2 separate regions of the Homo sapiens genome follow, and region 1 is linked to region 2. The links come from fine-mapping of genetic effects on gene expression. A gene starts in region 2. The other region holds a variant in brackets. All regions are shown on one strand. Distances are between the middles of the regions.

The links. PIP is the estimated chance that this variant, and not a neighbour inherited with it, causes the effect.
Region 1: its variant is the best candidate, but not a certain one, in a credible set for the expression of TRAFD1 in whole blood (INTERVAL, PIP 0.52).

Annotation. Positions count from the first base shown.
Region 1 is chr12:111,909,576-111,913,972 of GRCh38, forward strand. No RefSeq gene overlaps it. Among named protein-coding and RNA genes, the nearest start is that of MAPKAPK5-AS1, 69 kb to the left of the region's middle. The variant T/C (reference allele first, on the strand shown) is at 2,382.
Region 2 is chr12:112,123,173-112,127,569 of GRCh38, forward strand. It overlaps TRAFD1 (TRAF-type zinc finger domain containing 1), which reads left to right and starts at 2,388. Exons shown (of 12, transcript NM_006700.3): 1 at 2,388-2,446. RefSeq lists enhancers at 2,113-2,407, 2,385-2,434, 2,845-2,914.

The sequences.
Region 1 (4,397 bases), 210 kb before region 2:
AAAGACCCAGAATAGCCAAAGCTATACTAAGCAAAAGGAACAAATCTGGAGGAATCACATTACCTGACTTCAAATTATACTGCAGAGCTATAGCAACCAAACCAGCATGGTACTGGCATAAAAACAGACACATTGACCAATGGAACAGAATAGAGAACCCAGAAACAAATCCACACACTGAGTGAACTCATTTTTGACAAAGGTGCCAAGAACAGGAAAAGACAGTCTCTTCAATAGATGGTGCTGGGAAAACTGGATATCCATATGCAGAAGACTGAAATTAGACCCCTATCTCTTGCTATATACAAAAATCAAATCAAAATGGATTAACACTTAAATCTAAGACATTAAACTATGAAACAACTACAAGAAAACATGGGGAAAAATCTCCAGGACATTGCTCTGGGCAAAAACTTCTTGGGTAATACCCTACAAACACAGGCAACCAAAGTAAAAATGGACAAATGGGCTCACATCAAGTGAAAAGGCTTCTGCATAGCAAAGGAAACAATCAACAAAGTGAAGAGACAACCCACAGAATATAAGAAAACATCTGCAAACTATCCATCTAACAAAGCATTAATAACCAGAGTATATAAGAAACTCAAGCCGGGTGCAGTGGCTCACACCTGTAATCCCAGCACTTTGGGAGGCCGAGGCGGGCGGATCACGAGGTCAGGAGATCGAGACCATCCTGGCTAACACGGTGAAACCCTGTCTCTACTAAAAATACAAAAATTTAGCCAGGCGTGGTGACGGGCGCCTGTAGTCTCAGCTACTCAGGAGGCTGAGGCAGAAGAATGGCGTGAACTGGCAGGCGGAGTTTGCAGTGAGCCGAGATTGTGCCACTGCACTCCAGCCTGGGTGACAGAGCAAGACTCCATCTCAAAAAAAAGAAACTCAAACAACTCCATAGGAAAAAATCTAATCTGATCAAATAGGCAAAAGATTTGAATAGACATTTCTCAAAAAAAGACACACAAATGGCAAACATGCATATGAAAAGGTGACTGTTCACTAATCATCAGAGAAATGCAAATCAAAACTACAATGTGATATCATCTCACCCCAGTTAAAATGGCTTATATCCAAAAGACAGGTAATAACAAATGCTGGCGAGGATGTGGAGAAAAGGGAGCCCTTCTACACTTTTGGTGGGAATGTAAATTAGTACAACCACTATGGAACTAAAACTAGAGCTACCATATGACTCAGCAATCTCACTGCTGGGTAAGGAAAGAAATCAGTATATTGAAGAGATATCTGCTGCACTCCCATATTTGTAGCAACACTGTTCACAACAGCCAAGATTTGGAGGCAACCTAAGTGTCCATCAACAGACAAATAGATAAAGAAAATGTGGGCTGGGTGCGGTGGCTCATGCCTGTAATCCCAGCACTTTGGGAGACTGAGGTGGGTGAACTGCTTGAGCACATGAGTTTGAGACCAGCCTGGGAAACATGGCAAAACCGTGTCTCTATAAAAAATACAAAAAATTAGCCAGGAGTGGTGGCATATACCTATAGTCCTAGCTACTCTGGAGGCTGAGGTGGGAGAATCACCTGGGCCCCAGAAGTTGAGGCTGCAGTACATGTACACAACAGAGTATTATTCGGCCATAAAAAGGAATGAGATCCTATCATTTGCAATAACATGGATGGAACTGGAGATCATTATGTTAAGTAAAATAAGCCAGGCACAGAAGACAAACATCATATGTTCTCACTTATTTGTGGGATCTAAAAGTTAAAACAACTGAACTCATGGAGATAGAAAATAGAAGGATGGCTACCAGAGGCTGGGAAGGGTAGTTGAGGGTAGGGGGAGGTAGGGATGGTTAATGGGTACAAAAAAAAATAAAGAATGAATAAGGCCTACTATTTGATAGCACAACAGGGTGACTATAGTCAGTAATAATTTAATTGTACATTTTAAAATAACTAAACGAGTATAACTGGATTGTTTATAACACTAAGGATAAATGCTTGAGGGGACAGATACCCCGTTCTCCATAATGAGATTATTATGCATTACACGCCTGTATAAAACCATCTTATGTACCCCATAAATATATATACCTACTATGTACCCACAAAAATTAGAATTAAAAAAATTAATAAACTGCTTTGGAGAAAATTTTCTTAAAAAAGAGAGATGAGGTCTCATTCTACTGCCCAGGCTGGAGTGCAATGGCACAATCATAGCCCTGAAATTCCTGGGCTCAAGCAACCCTCCTACTTCAGCCTCTTGTGCTAAGTATTTTTATTTTTATTTTTAGAGATGGAGGTCTCTGTTACCCAGACTAGTCTTGAACTCCTGGCCTCAGGTGATTCTTCCACCTTGGCCTCCCAAAGTGCTGGGGTTACAAGCATTAGCCACTG[T/C]GCCCAGCCAGGTAGGATGCTTTTTGCCAGTCCATAGCCACTGCACAATCCAAAATCTTGTTCAGATACAATATTGTTAATTTTATAAAGCTCATTAAGTAAATTTTGAATGTTCATAAACCCCAAACTCCAGCCAAATAAGGCTGAACCCCTTTAGGATAGACTGTGGCAGGGAAGGATGAGTTTTAATGGAGGCAGGAATGAATGAGCAGGTACATGGAACTTGGGATCTTAAATGTCTGGGTTCAAGAGTCAGAGTTCCCTTAAGCATGAGTGAGAATAGTCTGTTCTGCATGGTGTGTTTGTGCCTCTAGGAAGTATAGCCTTTCTCCTGGTTCCTCTCCCCAGTGTGTTGGGGAATTATGAGGAATGTTTACGTGTTGTCATTGGTAGTCACTTGTGACCCAGCCAGGTGCTGCCCCAAGAGACTCTGGTGTTGACTGGTGACTTCTTGCCATCCTTTATCTGCCTTCTCTGGACCGCTTTTGTCTTCTCTGTGCTGCCTCAGGCCAGTGGAGAACCAGGTCCTTCTTTTACTTACCCAAAGCACCGCCAAGTTCAGGCTCTAGTTTTATCTAGACTTGAGTTAAACAAAGGGAATGACGATATGGGAAAGAAAATACATTTGGATGTTACAGATATGTGTGTTCCTGGAGCCCAGGGGCCAAGCCCCTCCCTGGGGGACTTGGATTGGTGATCTCTCTCCTTGGCCCCAACCTGACATCTTTTCTTGTCCTTTTAGGAATGTCTGATGGAAATTCCTCCTAACCTGGGGTCATACTCCATTTCATTCTCTGGGCTCAGTGAGAGGGAAAATTTTTTTTTTAAGTAATTTACTGAAAACCCAGATCACACCATCATAAATTCAGATAGGTGCAATTCTGCCCACAATGAAGGCAAAGTGTTACACTAATTTGAAAACAGTTTAGCCTCTTATTCCCCCAAACTTCATTCTTGAATTTTGTCATTTTTTGTGGGCAAGCTGTGGGAAAGGGGCACAAAAGTATCACTGAAGTATTTTTTCAAAAAAGAAAAAAGGCAGTCTTCCTCTACTAATGAGAATGCAAAATGTTGAACAACTGTAAAATGTTTTCACCCTGCTTTTAGACATAAAGCTTTAAAAAACTGTGAGGTCTTTTATCACTTCCCCATTGTATATGTAATATGGCTCCAGATAATTACTCTGCCACGGGGAGAAAATCTTCCATAACTCTCCCCTATATATATGTATACTCCACCACCTTATCTTGTTATGTCATGGTGGTGGGAGTATTTATACCACAGAAACAGGCAAATGATACAAATCTGGGCTTCAGGCTAGGCGTGGTGGCACACCCCTGTAATCCCAGTATTTTGGGAGGCTGAGGGGCAGATCGCTTGAATCCAGGAGTTCAAGCTCAGCTTCGATAACATGGTAAAATATAATATAAAAATATAAAAATATAAAAATTACCCAGGCATGGTGGCTTGCGCCTGTAGTCTCAGCTACTCGGGAAGCTGAGGTGGGAGAATCAGTGAGCCCAGGCCAAGTCAAGGCTATAGTGAGCTGTGATGGTGCCACTGCACTCCAGCCTGGGTTACAGAGTGTGACCCTGTCTCAAAAAAAAAAAAAAAAAAAAAAAAAGACCCAACAAACTAATCTGACCTCAGTTCATTTGTTTATTTTCCTATTGACTTCATTCTTTAAATTTAAACATTTACTTTTAAGAAATATTTATATGCTAGGAACTAAATGGTTAAAGATAAAAAACACAGATTCTGGATGTAGAGAAATTAGAACCCACATGCACTGCTGGTGTGAATGTAAAATGGTGCAGCCACTTTGAATCAAAGCTTGGTAGTTTCTTAAAATGCTAAATAAATGCAGAGTTATCCTATGACCTAGCACTTCCACTCATATATGCATAATATACCCAAGAAATACAAAAACATATCCATACAAAAACTTGTACATGAGTATTTATAGCATGTTACTTATACATTAAATGAAAACAATCCAAATGTCTATCATTAACT
Region 2 (4,397 bases):
ACGTTTAGTTGTGCAATCACTTCGGAAAACAGTTTGGTAGTTTCTTGTAAAGTTAAAACATAGACTTACCGTATGATCCAGCAATCCCACTTCCAAGTGTTTATCTGAGAGAAATAAAAACATATATCCCCAAAGACTTGCACAAGAATGGTTACTACTGCTTAAACTAGAATCAATTTTTTTTTTTGAGATGGAGTCTTGCTCTGTCACCCAGGCTGGAGTGCAGTGGTGCCATATCAGCTCGCTGAAACCTCTGCCTCCCAGGCTCAAGCAATCTTCTCACCTTAGCCTCCCAAGTAGCTGGGACTACACGCATGAGCCACCACGCCTGGCTACATTTTTGTATTTTTTGTAGAGACAGGGTTTTGTTATGTTGCCCAGGCTGGTCTGGAACTCCTGAGCTCAGGCGATCCACCCACCTTGACCTGCCGAAGTGCTGGGATTGTGGGCGTGAGCCACCATGCCTGGCCAAAAACTAGAACCAGCTCTAATGTTTGTCAGTATAAATTGTGGCATATCCATGTGCTATGCTACTTGGCACTGAAAAGGAATAGACTTGATATTATCAACAGCATGGATAAACCTCAAAAACATTATGCTGAGTTAAAACACCTTATTCATAAAAGAACACACTATATGGTTATCTTTTTTCTTTATATATACTTAATACATTAATATACTTAATTCATATTAATACACATTTTTTCTGATTGCTTTTTAACTGTTAATGATTGTGCTTTCTTTTGAACTCCAGTAAGTTTTGTTATTAAAATGTAACATACAATGTAAAGTGCTTAAGATATAGGTGTGTAGCTTAATAACTATTTACTAATTAATCCATCTGTGTTAATCACTTTGCTGATCAAGATATAAACATTTCTAGAAAATCTTTCTCATATCTCCTTACAGGCTATATACCCTCTGAATGGAACCAGTTACTTACTTCTCTCACTTTAGGTTAATTTTCCCTGGTTTTAAACTTTATATGTTTGGAATCACACAAGTTATATTGCATATTTAAGCTAAATATTTTATCTTGTTATAAATATTGCTTTGAGACGGAGTTTTGATTTTGTTGCCCAGGCTGGAGTGCAGTGGCTCAATCTCGGCTCACTGCAACCTTCACCTCCTGGGTTCAAGCGATTCTCCTGTCTCAGCCTCCCAAGTAGCTGGGATCATAGGCGCCTGCCACCACGGCCAGCTAATTTTTGTATTTTTAGTAGAAACGGTGTTTCACCATGTTGGCCAGGCTGGTCTTGAACTCCTGACCTCAGGTGATCCACCAGCCTCTGCCTCCCAAAGTGTTGGCATTACAGGCGTGAGCCACCGCGCCCAGCCTGTTAGATGCTTTTCTTGCTTAGTACTATCTCATTAACATTTTGCAATTATATTATATTATATTATATTATATTATATTATATTATATTATATTATTTTTGAGACGGGGTCTTTCTCTGTCCCCCAGGCTGGAGTGCGGTAGCATGATCAGGGCTCACTCCAGCCCTGCCTCCTGGGCTCGAGGGATCCTTCCACCTCAGCCTCCCAAGGAGGTGGAACTACAGGTGCGTGCCACCACGCCTGGCTAATTTTTGTATTTTTTTTGTAGAGATATGGTTTCATTATATTGCCCAGGCTGGTCTCTAATTCCTGAGCTCAAGAGATCCACCCGCCTTGGCCTCCATATTTTGCAATTATAATCTGCAATGGAATCATAATTTTAAATTGCTGTATTGTTTGTAATATGTGCTTGGTTATACTTATATAATTATAAGTTGGTTTGTAATATGTGCTTGGTTATACTTATATAATTATTCTCTCCTTTATTATACATGAGGTAAGAGAAGCTCAGGGAATCCATTCAGGCAGCAAGTGGAGAAACTAGCTCTCAAACCTGCATCTCAGGCTCTCATTCTTCCACTGCAAAAAAGCAAAGTGCTCAAAAAATATGGTCACAGATCTGCAGAAGTCTTGCACAAGGGCATTATCATAGCAATAAGAATGACTAATAAGTATTAACGGCCCATGAGAAAAGAACAAATACCATTAATTATCTCAATATATTAAGCATATTAGTAATGTTTGTACAGAATTATTCATGCAAATATTATTAGCCTGTGTCGGGGACAGTTGCTAAACTCAGCAACAGGCTCACAGCTCAGCTTCGTGCCTCTGGTTCCAGATGTGCAGGGGCCAGGGCTTCCAGGGACACGCCCCCGTGGGCCTCCAGGGAGCCAATCGACGCGCAGAAGGCGGGGCCCTGGGAGCGACAACGGTGTTATCCAATGGGCCGACAGCTGGAGCCGCCCCTGGCCAATGGGCGCGCTCCTCCGCGATGGGCGGAAGTGGTGAGGCAGCTCTGAGGGCCGTTGTTCAGTGCGGGGTCTGACAGAGGAGGCTCCGTGTCTGCAGCTAGTGTGTCAACTCAGCGTTTCTCCTCTCGTCCCTGGTGAGGTGTAGCGGCGGCACGCGGCTGGAGATCCCCTGTGGCCTCCAGTTTAGGAAGGGTCCAGCATCCCAAGGGAGGGGTGTGTGGGCGAGGGGTCTCTGGGCCCGGGGTCGCGGCTGTGAGGAGAGGATGCCCGCGCGGCGGCATCTCAGGCACCTGGAGGAGGCCGCGCTTTCTCCTCAGGGAACCGGCGCCTTGGCAGCCCCCGGCGACGCCGCCCCCTTCGCGGCCTAGGTTGGTCTGGTGAGCCGGGAAGCGGGCGTCGTTCGCAGCGCCGCTGTGACCACCGCGTCCCGGGCGGAGCTGGGCTCAGTGCCGGCCTGGGCCTAGAGTCCGAGCCTCGAGCTGCCGGCGTGGGGGGTCGCGAGTGGCCTAATGCGGCCTCGAAGCCGAAGGACCCGAGTCCGAGCTCGCACTCCGACCCGCTGGTGCTGTGGAAAACTCAGGTGGCCTTCCGCTTTCGTAGCCTCTAAAGTGGGGACCAAGACTTTCACCTCTTAGGATTGTAGTCGGGATTAAAAGATTTTCCCGGTAAGCGTTTGGCAACTGCTATTATTTGAGAAGCCGCTTACTTCTTCACTCCCCATCACCGACCTTCCTGGGGACGGGGGCGATTGGAAACTGCCTTGGGGTATCTGGACCCGGCAGGGGAAGCTCCGCCGCCTCGGGCAGAGGGACGGTCCCCTCTGCGGACTAGAGAGATCTAGCTGACCCCCAACAGGCTCCTTATAAGCTTGAAGACTTTTCTGTGCCTCAACTCTTCCGTGCATTCGCCCGTTTCCTTGACCCTTTGAAGTATTGTCAGTCCTCTGCCTGAAGAATCTGAGGCCCAGAGAGGTTAAATCTGGCAGAACCAGCCAGACCTTGACCCCCAGAGGGGGACCCTGCAGGCTACCCCCAGTCTCCTTGCATCTAGAAAAGCAAGCACCTGCTACATCTGAGCTCTGGCCTTAGAGTTGGCCAGAGTGGGCTGGAATAGAGCACACCTGAAATCAGTCGGACAGCCTTCCTTAGTTGCCATTTCATATCAGAGTGAATATCTTTTTTTTTTTTTGAGATGGAGTCACCTTCTGTTGTTCAGGTTGGAGTGCAGTGGCGAGATCTCAGCTCACTGCAGCCTCCGCCTCCTGGGTTTAAGTGATTCTCTTGCCTCAGCCTCCTGAGTAGCTGGGATACAAGCGCCCGTCACCACGCCCAACTAATTTTTGTATTTTTAGTAGAGACTTGGTTTTGCCATGTTGGCCAGGCTGGTCTCGAACCCCAGACCTCCAGTGATCTGCCCACCTCGCCCTCCCAAAGTGCTGGGATTACAGGCGTGAGCTGCTGCGCCCAGCCCAGAATGGGTGTCTTGAATTATGTCATTCCCTAGTTTAAAGCCCTTCAGTGGTTTACCATTGAGCTTGGAATCGAATCCAATATTCTTTCTGTCTGATATGACAAGACCTTCTTGAGTCATTCCCCTTTTTTATTATGCTCTTCCAGATCTGCCTTTACTTTCTCTTTCATTGCTTTTAGGCCTTTTGCCCTTCCCACTGCCTGGATGGATTTCCCCGCATTCCCATCCTCTATCTTTGTCTTTTCGTGGTTGGCTCTTGTACTTCAGTTCTTAATTTAAATGTCGTCTCCCCAGAAAGTTCTTCCCTGACCACTCTTATCTACCTAAAGTAGATTTGCCTCTATTCCGCCCCCATTTATTTGTCAGTATACTTTTCCATCACAATACTCAAGTTATATGTATTTTTTTGCTTATTGTTTTTCTCTACCACTAAATCGCTTTATCAGAGACTATATTTCCTTATTTTGTAAAGTATTTTTAGTGCCAGGGCACAGTGGCACACAGTATGGTCTTCTTTTTCTTTGAGACAGGGTCTCACTCTGTCACCCCGGCTGGAGTGCAGTGGTGTGATCACAACTCACTCACTGTAGCCTCGACCTCCTGGGCTCAAGCCTC